Linked DNA regions of Homo sapiens. The protein of the gene in region 1 interacts with the protein of each later gene in a pairwise test. Each region holds a gene or a part of one and is shown on either strand. Other genes may lie near its edges.

The links. The genes of interacting proteins can lie anywhere in the genome.
Region 2: the proteins of SLC12A1 (region 1) and USP40 interact in a two-hybrid assay, tested with the Homo sapiens proteins (one study listed by BioGRID).

The regions. Positions count from the first base shown.
Region 1 is NC_000015.10:48,201,523-48,209,328, reverse strand, and holds the start of SLC12A1 (solute carrier family 12 member 1), read right to left. Parts: upstream 3,028-7,806; 5' UTR 2,999-3,027; intron 1,796-2,998; 5' UTR 1,610-1,795; coding exon 1,190-1,609; intron 1-1,189. Other genes in the region: CTXN2 (cortexin-2), read right to left, coding at 7,783-7,806. UniProt on the Homo sapiens protein: Renal sodium, potassium and chloride ion cotransporter that mediates the transepithelial NaCl reabsorption in the thick ascending limb and plays an essential role in the urinary concentration and volume regulation. Electrically silent transporter system.
Region 2 is NC_000002.12:233,474,871-233,479,858, forward strand, and holds the end of USP40 (ubiquitin carboxyl-terminal hydrolase 40), read right to left. Parts: intron 2,634-4,988; coding exon 2,522-2,633; 3' UTR 656-2,521; downstream 1-655. UniProt on the Homo sapiens protein: May be catalytically inactive.

The DNA of each region.
Region 1 (7,806 bases):
TTGGGAGGCTGAGGTGGGCAGATCACCTGAGGTTGGGAGTTCAAGACCAGCCTGACCAACATGGAGAAACCCCATCTTTACTAAAAATACAAAAAAATTAGCTGAGTGTGGTGGTGGCACATGCCTGTAATCCCAGCTACTCAGGGGGCTGAGGCAGAAGAATCGCTTGAACCCAGGAGGTGGAGGTTGCGGTGAGCCGAGATCGCACCATTGCACTCCAGCCCGGGCAACAAGAGCGATACTTCGTCTCAAAAAAGATTGGGAAAAGTGCTGCCTCACTTCTAACAGACTTGGGAACCCTGGCTGTATTTCTTAAATAATGAAAAGTTTAGTCACTTCTGCTGCTTCTGTACTTTAATTTAGTTATTTTTATATGCTTAAGCACATTCAGGAGCCTCAGGCAAAGTTTTAAAGAGGAAGGGATAAAATGCTGAATCTTATAAATCTCTGCCCTTTCTTTAAAGAATATAAAAAATACCCCTACACACTAAAGGCTGTCACCCACAGTATTAACTACAGCAAGCACAAGTGTTTTGCTTTTTATACGATTGACATAGAGACATTAATACTGACGTGAAACCAGCTTGGTATTCAGTTTGACGTGTTTAACCAAGTGTGAATTGAGTGGACTATAATCATATACAAGGTACAACATATTGCCTAACATTTAGAGTTAATTCTTTAGTTCTCTATCCTAAGTCAGAAAACATTTGTGGAGCTGGGCACAGTGGCTCATGCCTGCAATCCCATCTCTTTGGGAGGCCAAGGTGGGAGGATCCCTTTAAGTCAGGAGTTCGAGACCAGCTTGAGCAACATAGCAAGACCCTGTCTCTACAAAAAATAAAAAAGTTAGTCAGGTGTGGTGGTGCATGCCTGCAGTCCCAGCTACTCAGGAGGTTGAGGTGGGAGGATTGTTTGAGCCCAGGAGTTCAAAGCTGCAGTGTCCACCACACTTCAGGCTGGGTGACAGAGCAAGACTTTGTCTCAAGAAAAAAAAAAATCCAAAGAAAAAGCATCTGTGAAACACTTTTCTGGGAACTAGGGACAGTTTTGTAAGTAAGATGGATAGTGTTTGGAATAGACCTCTCCATTTGACTGTTTCACATTCATTCATAGTGTAATGAAAGAGAAGGAAATTATCTGAAGTTATGAATAAGGGAGGAGACTTGCTTGTGTCCTTCAAGCTTACCTTTGCGAGTTGCTCGTGAATCTCAAGCAGGCTGGGTCGGTTGACCTTGGGCCCACTGATGCTGCCGGTGTTACGATAGTACTCTATCTTGGGAACGGCATCCATGGTGTTGTGGCCAAAAGTTTGTAGATAGTATGTGTTTGTGTGAGAATCATAAGCGTGAAAACTGGCATCTGTTTTAGCAGTTTCTCCACTTTGGAGGAAATTGTCATAGCACTCCTGATTCCCAGGCCTAAAGCTGATTCTGAGTCTTTTCTGAGCTTCATCCCCAAAAGAGGTTTCTTCATAATGTGGTGGGTCAGTATTGTCATCTGCAGCTGCACTGCTCTCATGGTTCTCATTTATGACACTAACTTGAAAGCGATTGGTATTACTGGGCACTGAATCCAGAAATACATTGGAAGAGTTGTTCAGTGACATCTTCCAAAATTGATTTTTTACTGAGCTATCTACTTTGTGGTTGTTTTAAAAAATCTATATATTTCTTCATCAAAATAAACACTAATGTGCTTCCATTAGGGAGCTCCTGGCTTTTGTTCTAGATGATTCAATAAATAGATTCTTGATATATTGTCTCCGATATAATCTTCAGGATGTTCTTCAAAGCTGTCATTGAAAAAGAAAATTAAACTTGTTCCAAGTAATACAAATATATTTAGGTAAGGGTGGGATATAAGGGAACAGTTTTATTTTACAAGACATACAATTTTAAACTCATTTCACTAAAATTTATCTGTCCAGGAACCTTAGTCATGTGAGTAATTAAATCTGATAATAAATAACTGGAAAACTGTTCCAGCAAACAGAACTTCCAATGCAGTCATTAAAATGTTACCTGTGTTTGTAGTATTTGCTTGAATTCAGTGCACTGGAGTTCACTGTGACTTTAGAAAAGATGTAACTTTACTTATTGAATACAGTAAGAGCTGATGAGAATATTCTCAGCCTAAGACACAGTTCACTGACAGTACTAAATGCTGAAACTGCAAAGTATTTTGATTGTTAGGAATATATACTATACAACATATAAAATGAAAAACAAAACTTCTAAAAAATATATTCTTGCTAGTTTATAAAAATCTGTACATGTTCAACTTATAAATTCCAAATTTTGTTACCTATGCAACAAGTAAAAAATTATGTTTTAGAATATGCATTTAAAAAATACATCCCATCAAGATGATGTCTCTGTGAATTCTTAGATCTTTTACAAGATCCAAATGTTTCATTTGCTCATACATTTGTTTGTTTTGCAAATACTAACATGAAACCTTAAAAAAATATGAATATAGAAATAAGTCATATATCTATAAGAAATAAGTCATATACCTTAAAAAAGTCCTCTGCTATGTTTAGGTAAAATAATCATGCTCTACTGACTCATTTTAATGAAATGTCTTCAATAATTGAGAGGTTTATATTTGACTGTGAGGTGAATAGACTTCACAATAATTTTCGCAATTTCATAGTACTGGCCTGTCTTAAAACACTTGCTTTAGAATTATATTTCCTTATTGATACCTTAAAATTTGGCTTTTCAAGGGAAGTTCTAGAAAAATGAGATAAATATAAATAAAAACTTGTCTCTCTCATGCAGTTATTAAAGCTGTGTATTTGAATTAAAAAAACCCTCAACTTCATTTCTCAAGTAACCTTTCCTGGGGAAATTATAAATGAAGCTATTATCGTTTTAGTTTTTACAAAACACTTCTCTTCATAGTCCTTGACACCCTCACCTACTCCTCAGAATCTACTTTATGACATAATATTAAGTATGATTTTTACCCTGCCCAGAAATGTTCAACTTACCACCAAGGAGCCTTCTTCTGAGGAAATGTAACCTGCTTCAGCGTCACCCAGGAATATATGGGACACTTAGCTTTCAGCCAGAAAGTTAGGCTTCTGCTTATTGGTTAGAAACTTTCTTGAAAGAGATGACTGTGCAATGATTGGCCTGGAATAGTACTGTAAGCCCCACCAGGTCATTAGCCCTGAGGAAACTTAAGTACCACATCAACTGGTAACTAGTAGTAAACCATTAATCCTTTTAGACAGGAAGTAACATAGAGTTTCTTTAATTCATAAGGAGAATTGGATCCCTTAACAGCAATTGTCCAAAAAATATGAGCATTGCCATTAGTCATTTGGGAATAGATAAATTGAGTTCCACCGTCTTACAGATGAGTCCTAGTGACCTCCTATTGTTTAGCATGTGTATCAAAATATAGTTCTCCAGAGACAATTTCTATACTCTGTAACTAGAAAGTAGTGTCTGAAATGATTTTATCTTGCTTGTAGTAGACATTACCTTGACTCTTTTGCATGGGAAGTAAGCAGATTAAGAGTGGAATCAATGATTTATTGAAAATATTTCTATTTTGGGAAATATGGGAAAATTTTTTTTTTTTGAGATGGAGTCTCGCTCTGTTGCCCAGGTTGCAGTGCACTGGTGCAATCTCAGCTCACTGCAACTTCTGTCTCCCAGGTTCAAGTGATTCTCCTGCCTCGGCCACCTGAGTAGCTGGGATTACAGGCGCCCACCACCACGCCTGGCTAAATTTTTTTGTAATTTTAGTAGAGATGGGGTTTCACCAGGTTGACCAGGCTGATCTTGAACTCCAGACCTCAGGTAATCTGCCCGGCACAGCCTCCCAAAGTGTCAAGATTACAGGTGTGAGCCACCGCGCCCAGCAGGGAAAACTGTTTTAAGCAGGAACCAAACTGTGGGTAAGCATCTCAGTGGCACTACTAAATGACCTTTCTGTCTCCAACTAGAAAAACATTTTTTTGTCCAACTCAGTTTTTGAGTTTTGTTGAGGAAAAGGTTTTTCTTTTTCAGATCTGCAAGTAGGTGATTATTAACACTGCAAACAATTCCTCCCTCAAGTCTGTCACTGATTATCAATCAGGATGATTGAATGAGTCCTCTTTGTTTCTTATAAGAAACGATTTAAGTGATTTCCAGTTGTCTGAGTAGCTCGGTTGTGGTGTAATATAGTGGCTAGGAGCAAGACTCAAGTCAGAAGGCCCAACTTATGTCGTGGCCCTGCCACTTGCTGTCTGTGTGAACTCAGTCAAGTTACTCAATCTTTCTGTGCCTTAATTTTCTCATCTGCAAATGCAGTTGTGGATTATAATTGTACCTACCTTGTTGTAGAGTTATTTTGAGGAATAAATGAGTTAGTTTGTGTATGGGGTTTAGAACAGCAACAATTTGTACCTAGTGCTTGCTTTCACTATTTTAGCGCTATTTACAATTAGCTGGGGATTTTTACTTAGCACATACAAGATTGTGAGGTGAATCATTAGAGATTGGGATAGATATTTTGTCTATAAAAAATAAGTGTAAAGGTAAGTTAGTGAACTGATACAGGATTATAGAAGTGTCTAGAGACACCTAAGTAAAACCCTTTAGATCCTCTTCGTTAAGTAAATGTCATGCTAATCAGTCAGGCTAATGTCGTGAGGCTATATCAGAAATAGAGACAGAATTACAAGTATATACCTATAACTCATTCCACTCTTAAAGGTCACCAGTACAAGGCATTTATCTGTTCAACAAAGGGTTCTGATTCCTCATATAGAAAGTGTTTTGGCATAGGAGTGTCCGATTTCAAATTCAGCTGGGTGGGGCTGGTTGTTTAGATCAAGACAAAGAACAGCTAGGATGGGGCTGGCACCCAAAATAAGTTCTATTCACCAGACCAGGACAGGAGCCATAAGCTGGCATCCTCCAACCCTTTTTGGAGCCACTTATTTACTCTACAACCTTTTTCCTCTACCAATGACTGTGAATACCTCTGATACCAGTCAATTTCCTTTTTCTTGCTGACTGACTGCCTGACTTCAGAGTGGTATGAATTTGTTTTAGTCTTGGTCTTATATCAACCAGACATTTTCATTCTAAGCCTTTTATCTCTCACTGTGAAATGAAAGTCTTTGTTCTCTTTTAAGGGGATTCAGGCATCCTGGAACAAATGGGAGACAGTTTTGGGGGATATGGATGAAATAACACCATCCATAAAGCCAACCTTGAAAGGTGAATCCGATTTAGGCCTTTCAGACAAGCGGGAAAGGTAACAGGAGCAAGCTATCTTGAGGTATGCTCCTCTATCTTTCCTCTGTCCTCTCTGACAAGGCTTTTGGGAAGGGGAAGCTAGAGGCTGATCCAACTGTGACACTGAACATCTATTCCTAGAAGAATTAACATTTCATGAAATTTCCATGTTGTTTTCATGTTGTAACCAGCCTTTTATATTTTTTATATTCTTTCTGTTTCTGAAAATACAGATACTGACTTTTCTATCCCCCAAACCACCCCACCCCCCAAAAAAACTAAGGCACCCAATAGACCACAAATAAAAACCACAGATGAAGACACTTTTGGTTAATAGAATTTTTCTTTAGTGGATTTGGAAATAATATTATGGTAGAGTTAATATACTTGAAAAGCTTATGGGAGTTGAACTTCCAGAAACAATGCTCATATTTCATAAAGTTTTCTTGGTTGTAGAGGTCTTTCTTCCTTTGAAATAAAGATCTGGCCTTGGTTTGTTCTAGTCATCAAAATGGAGGGTCTTGGTGGGTGTCTTCTCTGGGAGACAAATGAAACATCTGGTACTTTAAAAGCCTTGGTCAACAAAGAGACCTAGTTTCCTGGCACACACAATTTTCAGTATGTTCAGTTGAACTTGGCCCAGTGGCCTGTTCTTGGGCCAAGTTACTAACTGGCTATGAGGTGTACCAGGCCTACACTCTTGAACCAACTGGGGTACAGAGAGCCTCCTTGAGGTGAGGATTTGGTCCAGAAGATCCATAGCTAATAACAGATATGTTCTAAATCTATTATGAGATGGAAAGCATCAAGGAATCTCACAGAGACAGCTGGTTTTGGAATTCCATAGACCTGAGCAGTAACCATGCCTATAAGCTATGTAGAAGTGTTGAGGACAGTGTCTAGGGATACAGCAGAAATCAAACTGCCCAAGTTCAATCCCTAACATAACCATTCCCTAGCTATGGTGACCTTGGGAAGCTAGTTAATTTCTCTTAGCTTCAGTTTCTCTTCTGCAAAATTAAGATTAAAAATAAAATGGAAATAGTAGTCTCCAACTCAAAGAATTTATAAGAGTATCAAATAAATTGAAAGTAACTAACTTAGTGCTACCTCTTGGTAATATTAGTCTTGTTCCTTCATGGTATGTTTTGCAGTTCTGTGTTTTCAAAGGACATAAATATTTTTGTATTTATCTCCTGCTATGTTCCTCCATTCTGACTCATAGAGAGTCAGAAGTTTGTAGTTGGAAAGAATTTAGAACTATATAATTTTATCTTTTTATTTCTCAATTGAAGAGAATGAAATACTAGAGAGATTGAATAATTTACACTAAGCCATTGCTTCTTAGGGTTTGAGAATCTCTATTACTGCTACTGATGAGGACAATAAATATTGATAGCAAGGTATGTTTAGATACTGTTTTATGGTTTACAAAATGCTTTCACATTCATTATATCTAATTGGCCCTCTCAATATTGCTGAAGACATGCAGGATGGGTTTCTTAATTCTTGTTGTGCAATATAGGTTCCCTTTAGGTAACTTTCTAGGTCATAAAGCTAGTTCTTGGCTAAGCTAACATTAGAATTCAAATCTCTGAGTTTAGGCTCCTAATCTGAAAAACTTTTCATGATATCTTAAATCCTCATTCATTTCAGATCTCTGGGTTTTCAGATACATTTGTAGCATTCATAGGGCACTAGAATTGAAAAGGATGTTAACACTACTCTTCACTGAAGCTCACAGAGATTAGATGACTTACCCATTAGAGCATAGCTCTACTGGTGGCACAGCTGAGACTGTCTTTGTTTCTGCTTAGAGTACTCTTTCCACTAGGTCATGCTGGAAACTCCCTTTTAAATTCTATTTATGCAAGGGGTAGGGGAGGGAGCATCAGTATGAGGCAGATCTGGTTTGGATTCCAAGCTATGGGATTTTACTGCAAGAGATTCGACAAACAGAAGAGATAGGAGGGTCAGGGCTCTGTGAAATTTGGGGAGCTTTAGGGCCTGTGACTACTTGTAGGCTTTGGGTGTTAGATTTTTGAGATATTTTTTCACCTGTGAACCTTTTGGGCCTATGGTTATTATTAGACAAATAATATTTTGATTATTCTTTGGACTAAATTCTCTGTTTAAGACCTGACTCACTAAAGCTAAAGGGGTCTGAGTCAGGAATGTGGAGGGGATGCCTGGGCTTTTCAGAGGGGAGAGAGCAAGATGCCTTTGGCACAGTTTATTAGCACAAGAAAGGAAGCAGAAATTCAAGGCAGTTGTTCAAGATAAGAATAAAGATGGTAAACATGGCGGCAGCCATCCTTATGCTCTATTCATTGGAAACCTCTAAGTGGGAACAGAGGAAAGTGAGGAATCCCAACAATAGTTTATCATTTACACAGCATGGTGAAGAAATTAGTCACAGATGTTTATTGAATTCACTGAACAAAATGAGCCTCTCTCCCACACCCTCAAGGTAGTTACAATTGTATCCAGAATGTGTCCCGATGGCACAACCATAAAAACCATATAGCTGGAACTCTCACGCGAGTGCATATTCAAATGT
Region 2 (4,988 bases), on another chromosome or scaffold:
TGATTTGCAAGGGAATTCTTGCCCCTCCCTTTTTTGGCTAGAAAAAGTCACTGTTGAATAAGTATGTTTTCTGTGACGACACCACCATTACGTATTTCCATAGAAGGAAAATAAAACCAGATTGATTACATCCAGTTTCTTCCAGTGCATTTTTCCCATGAGTCTGAACTTTTTAAAACCAAAGCAAACTTGTTATTTCTAAAGCAGCACTGCTGCAGTATTTCTAAATATAAACTGTTTATTTAGCATCTGAAGCAGGCTTGGGAAAAAGGGCCACAAACGTTCCTTATTTTATTTATGTATTTTTTTTGAGACGGAGTCTCGCTCTGTCACCCAGGCTGGAGTGCAGTGGCACGATCTTGGCGCACTGCAACCTCTGCTTCCTGGGTTCAGACGATTCTCCTGCCTCAGCCTCCCGAGTGGCTGGGACTACAGGCGCCCGCCACCATGCCCAGATAATTTTTTGTACTTTTAGGAGAGACAGGGTTTCACCATGTCAGCCAGGCTGGTTTTACACTCCTGACCTCAAATGATCCACCCGCCTTGGCCTCCCAAAGTGCTGGGATTACAGGCGTGAGCCACCGCGCCCGGCCAAAAGTTCCTCTCTTAAGCAAGCTGGGCACGAAGTAGCCGGCAACCAAAAGCAGCTAAGGGCTACAACTTTAAAAAATGGTTTATTTTTTTCTTTAACAAAATCGTACAGCTTTCTCAATCCCCAAATTAAAAAAACAGAAAACAGGAAGAAAGGGAAGAAGGCAAAGGCCACACGCACAGGCCGGCCCGGCCGCACGCGCCTGCTGGACGGCACTTCAGGGCACAACCCACACGCGTCTTTGGACTTGCAGACATTCCGCGAGGCTTCTGGCCTCTCGAAGGCAAAGCTTTTCAGCGATTTCATTAATATTTCATTACGCTGAGATGAGATGAAGGCAGATGCTACAGAAATATGTCAGTTAAAGCCACAGAAACAGAACAGCTTAAGAAGGGCTGGGCGCCCAGCTCGTCACGACACTTACAGCTCTGGCGTCATCAGAAGCCTCTATCATCTCCCTCTGCAAAGACGCAGTCTACACCCAGTGCGAGTCTCCTGAGCGGGGTTAGTGTTTGGGAGTGGGAGGCAGCTGCTAGTCAGAGTTGGGTCCTTAGGGCGCAGTGCTTCACGGAAACGCACAGACGTCTATGGCAGACGCTCTCAGACACGTGTGCAGAAGCGACGTGGCTTCTGTCTGGTAGGGGTTTGGACTGTTGGGAGGAGTATGAGGGACAAAGCAGGCCGCTGGCTCAGCATCAGCTTGTTGGAAAAGGGTCACAGGCAGGGGAGCGCCTGACTCCAGCGGTGTCCTTTCTGCCCTCACACTTCAGTGCTGCTTCCCATCAGTGACGGGGCTGACGAGAAACCGTGAGGCCCAGGTGACAAGCAGGCTCAGGACATGCGACACCGTCTTCGGGATGCTGCTTTCCGCTAAGCTGCTGTCTGGGAAAGTCAACCGTCTATGTCCCAAATCAATCAACTCAGTGACACAGGTACTATTATTTCTCACAAATGCCAATTAAATCCTTTAAGTTGAATAGAAATCTGGGTTGGATTAAGTGGGAAAACCCTTCCTTAGTTTACATTTTCTTTTTCTCAGGTGTTTTCATTGAGGCTACTCAGGAAACCGGTCAGGCTGCCCAGGACACCTGGAACCTGGGCTATGCCAGGCCTGTCTGCCACAGCCCTGCCTGCCCCGCTTCCACACAGGAAGAGAGGCTGAGGCGCTGTGGACGGCAGCAGCTGCAGTCCTCGGGATCCAAGGACCTTCTGATCACAGAGCACCCAGGATAAGCTGGACCCTTGGCCTGCGGGCTGACGTGCAGCGGCTGCCCTTGCTTAGCAGAGCGACTCACCCTCGGAGGCCACCCTGTGTGGCTCCTCCTCGTGGAAAGAGCTCGCACTTTTCAGCATCGCAGTTTTAACTCAGACCAAAGGGCAGACGTGGAGCATGCGGGGCCGGAACGAGTGGGGGAAATGAAGTCCTGAAAGCAGACCCCACTTCTGCCCGCTTCTGCTCAGCACCAGCGCGGTGGCGCAGTGGCCTGAGACACTGTGAGAAGCCGGTCAGGGCGAACGAGAGTCATCTGAACACGGAGGAAAGTGGCTGGCCTGACCCCACACACCTCCCACAGCGGAGCAACGGCATGCCGCTGCCTCCATACCTGCGGTTCACGCACACGTTGTGCATTTTCTGGTTAAAAGAAAAAAAAAGGCAGCTGGGGCCGGGTGCTGTGTGAGAGAGCCCAGCACCTACTGGCAGCTGGGTGGGCGACATCCAGAGCTGCACCAGCCCCCGTGGCTGCCACGTGTTGCAGAGCTAAGTGACTACATGCACTGGCCAGGCCTCAGAGGAGCCGTCCCTGTGCTCAAAGGAAGCAGAGGATTTGGGATTGGAGGCGCCAGGCAGCCAGTCCCCATGCCCAGGAAACCCACGTTTGTGGCATCAGCCGGAGAGTTCATCGGGAGTAGAGCCGTGCAGCGGCGCGGTTATCTGAAGCTCCCCACGTGGATGGAGAGAGAAGTTTCCGGGGCTCGGGGCCGGGCAGGCGTCTCTGCACTGGAGAGGATGTAGCTGCTCTGCTCATGGAGGGCTTCTTGGCTGCAGAGACACAGACACTGTCATTGACTCATGGATGCAGTGGGTGTCAGGGTGAGGGGTTCACGAAGACCCCAAAATACACTCCAATTTTATAGGCCACAAGGACGTGCATTTGCAATTGCACAGACAGATCTCAGCCACCTGCCAGAGGGCCCCATTTTGCCCTGCCACCAGCCCTGTGCCAGGCCAGCTGCCTTCCCCTGCTTTGCACTGGCAGCACGGCATGGTTCAGGCTCTGGGGCTTTCTCAATCTGCTCAGTGAAAATGCCTCACAGCTGAGAAACCTTCCTTTCCGTACTTTTTAAACGGAAGAATAACATCCGGAGTGCACACACACCGCTGCACGACTCGTCACAATCACGCACACCTGTGTGACATGATGCAGAGGCTGCCTCTGCCCCTTCAGTCTTGCCCGGAGAGACAGGCCACTTGGCATCCCACTCAAGAGACTGGCTTTCGCTGTGACCCCCCCGGCCCATGGCACCGTGCGGCAGGTGCTCTGCGGCCGGGTGCTTTGGCCCAGCCTGATGTGTGTGGCCCACCCACGCTGCACAGTCCCCGACAGAAAGCCTCCGCGGCCCACCCGCCATCCCACTGCTGAGCAGCCTTTCCTTCAATACGGCCAGAATCTGGCCATGGTGAATGAAGCTGCCTTGTAATTTTGGGGATATCCTGGTAGGCACGCGTCCATGTTTTTGAGGAGTAGAAGGCTGGGTACCGGGAAGTGCCCAGCAGATGCAGCAGGAGGTACTGTCCTGAGTTCCAAAGTGTCTGTGCCAATTCCACACCCACACACAGGGGATGAGAGCCCCAGTGACTCTGCGTCCTCAACACACGAGTCTTTCCCACTTTAGTGTTGCCAATAGGCATGTGGCACTGTCTCGGAGTAGCTTGAATTTACACCTCTTTTATCATGAGTGAATGGCTGAGCATATTTTTATATGCTGGCAAGCGATTTGCAGTTCCTTTTCTATGAACTGTTCATACCCTTTACCTACATTTTTATTGGATTGGTTGTCTTTTTCTTATTTGCAGATAATGTTTACAGCCATACCCTCTGACCTAGCAATTCCATTGCAGAAATCTGTCCTACAGATATATCCACATCTGTACTGCAAAATGGTGAATATACAAGGTTATTCACTGTGATGGTGACAGATTGGCGACAGCCTGGAAGTGTGTGAGGTGGGCATAAGTCACCTAAGCTGTGGTCTACCCATGCATCAGGACACCACGCTCCCACCATGAGACGGGGCAGCTGAGTACACACTGGTACATGAAAACAGCAAGGTTACCAAGAAAGTTCTGGTCAAAAGAGAAAGGAAAGCTTCTCTGCCCCTATACACAGGTCTCTGAAAGGACATGCAGGTGACGGTCACGCTGGCCCATCTAGGAGAGGCTGTGTACCTGGGGAGGGAGGTGCAGAGATTTCTCAGTGAACCTCTTTGGTGGCTTTTGAAAGCACGTGACACTATTAACTCCAAAAAAAAATGAAAAACAATATAGTAAGTGGTTACATCACGGTGTTCAGAAGACACCAGTGGTCTACTGTTGTGCAAACAGCACGTGTGAGGCTTAAGATGAGGTTTTCAGTGACAGCACCATGAATTTTTAAAATGTGCTATCTCAAACAGCACAGATGACAATGGAGCTCCCAGGGCCTGGGGAACTATTGGATGTCTCCAAATAACAGCCCTGGTGACAACTAAGGCTTTGACAGAGAGGATGCTTGGAGAAGTCTGATGAAGTCAGTGGCATCACATTTAAATGTGGAAACAGAGCCAGGCGCGGTGGCTCACGCCTGTAATCCCAGTACTTTGGGAGGCCAAGGCGGGCTGATCACAAGGTCAAGAGATTGAGACCATCCTGGCCAACATGGTGAAACCTCGTCTCTACTAAAAATACAAAAATTAGCTGGGCATAGTGGTGCACGCCTGTAGTACCAGCTACTTGGGAGACTGAGGCAGGAGAATCGCTTGAACCCGGGAGGCGGAGGTTGAAGTGGGTTGAGATCGTGCCACTGCACTCCAGCCTGGCGACAAGGTGGGACTCCGTCGCAAAAAAAAAAAAAAATTTGGAAAACAGTATTTTAGTGTCTATGTATTAGACACGTATAGAATTTTACGTGTGTGTGTGTGTGTGTGTGTGTGTGTGTGTCTGACCTTTAAACAGGAAAACCCCCGAAGCAGCCAGCGCTGCAGCCCCTCTCCCATATCCCAGGTCTCTGAGGGCACCAGGACCTGAGGGCTGCAGAGCTGCGAATGGGGGTGAGGCCAGGCACAGGTCCTTTGCTATCCTGGGGCTCCCGGGGCCCTTAGGGAGTCAGCAAAGGCCACGGGACAGTGCTGTCCGGAA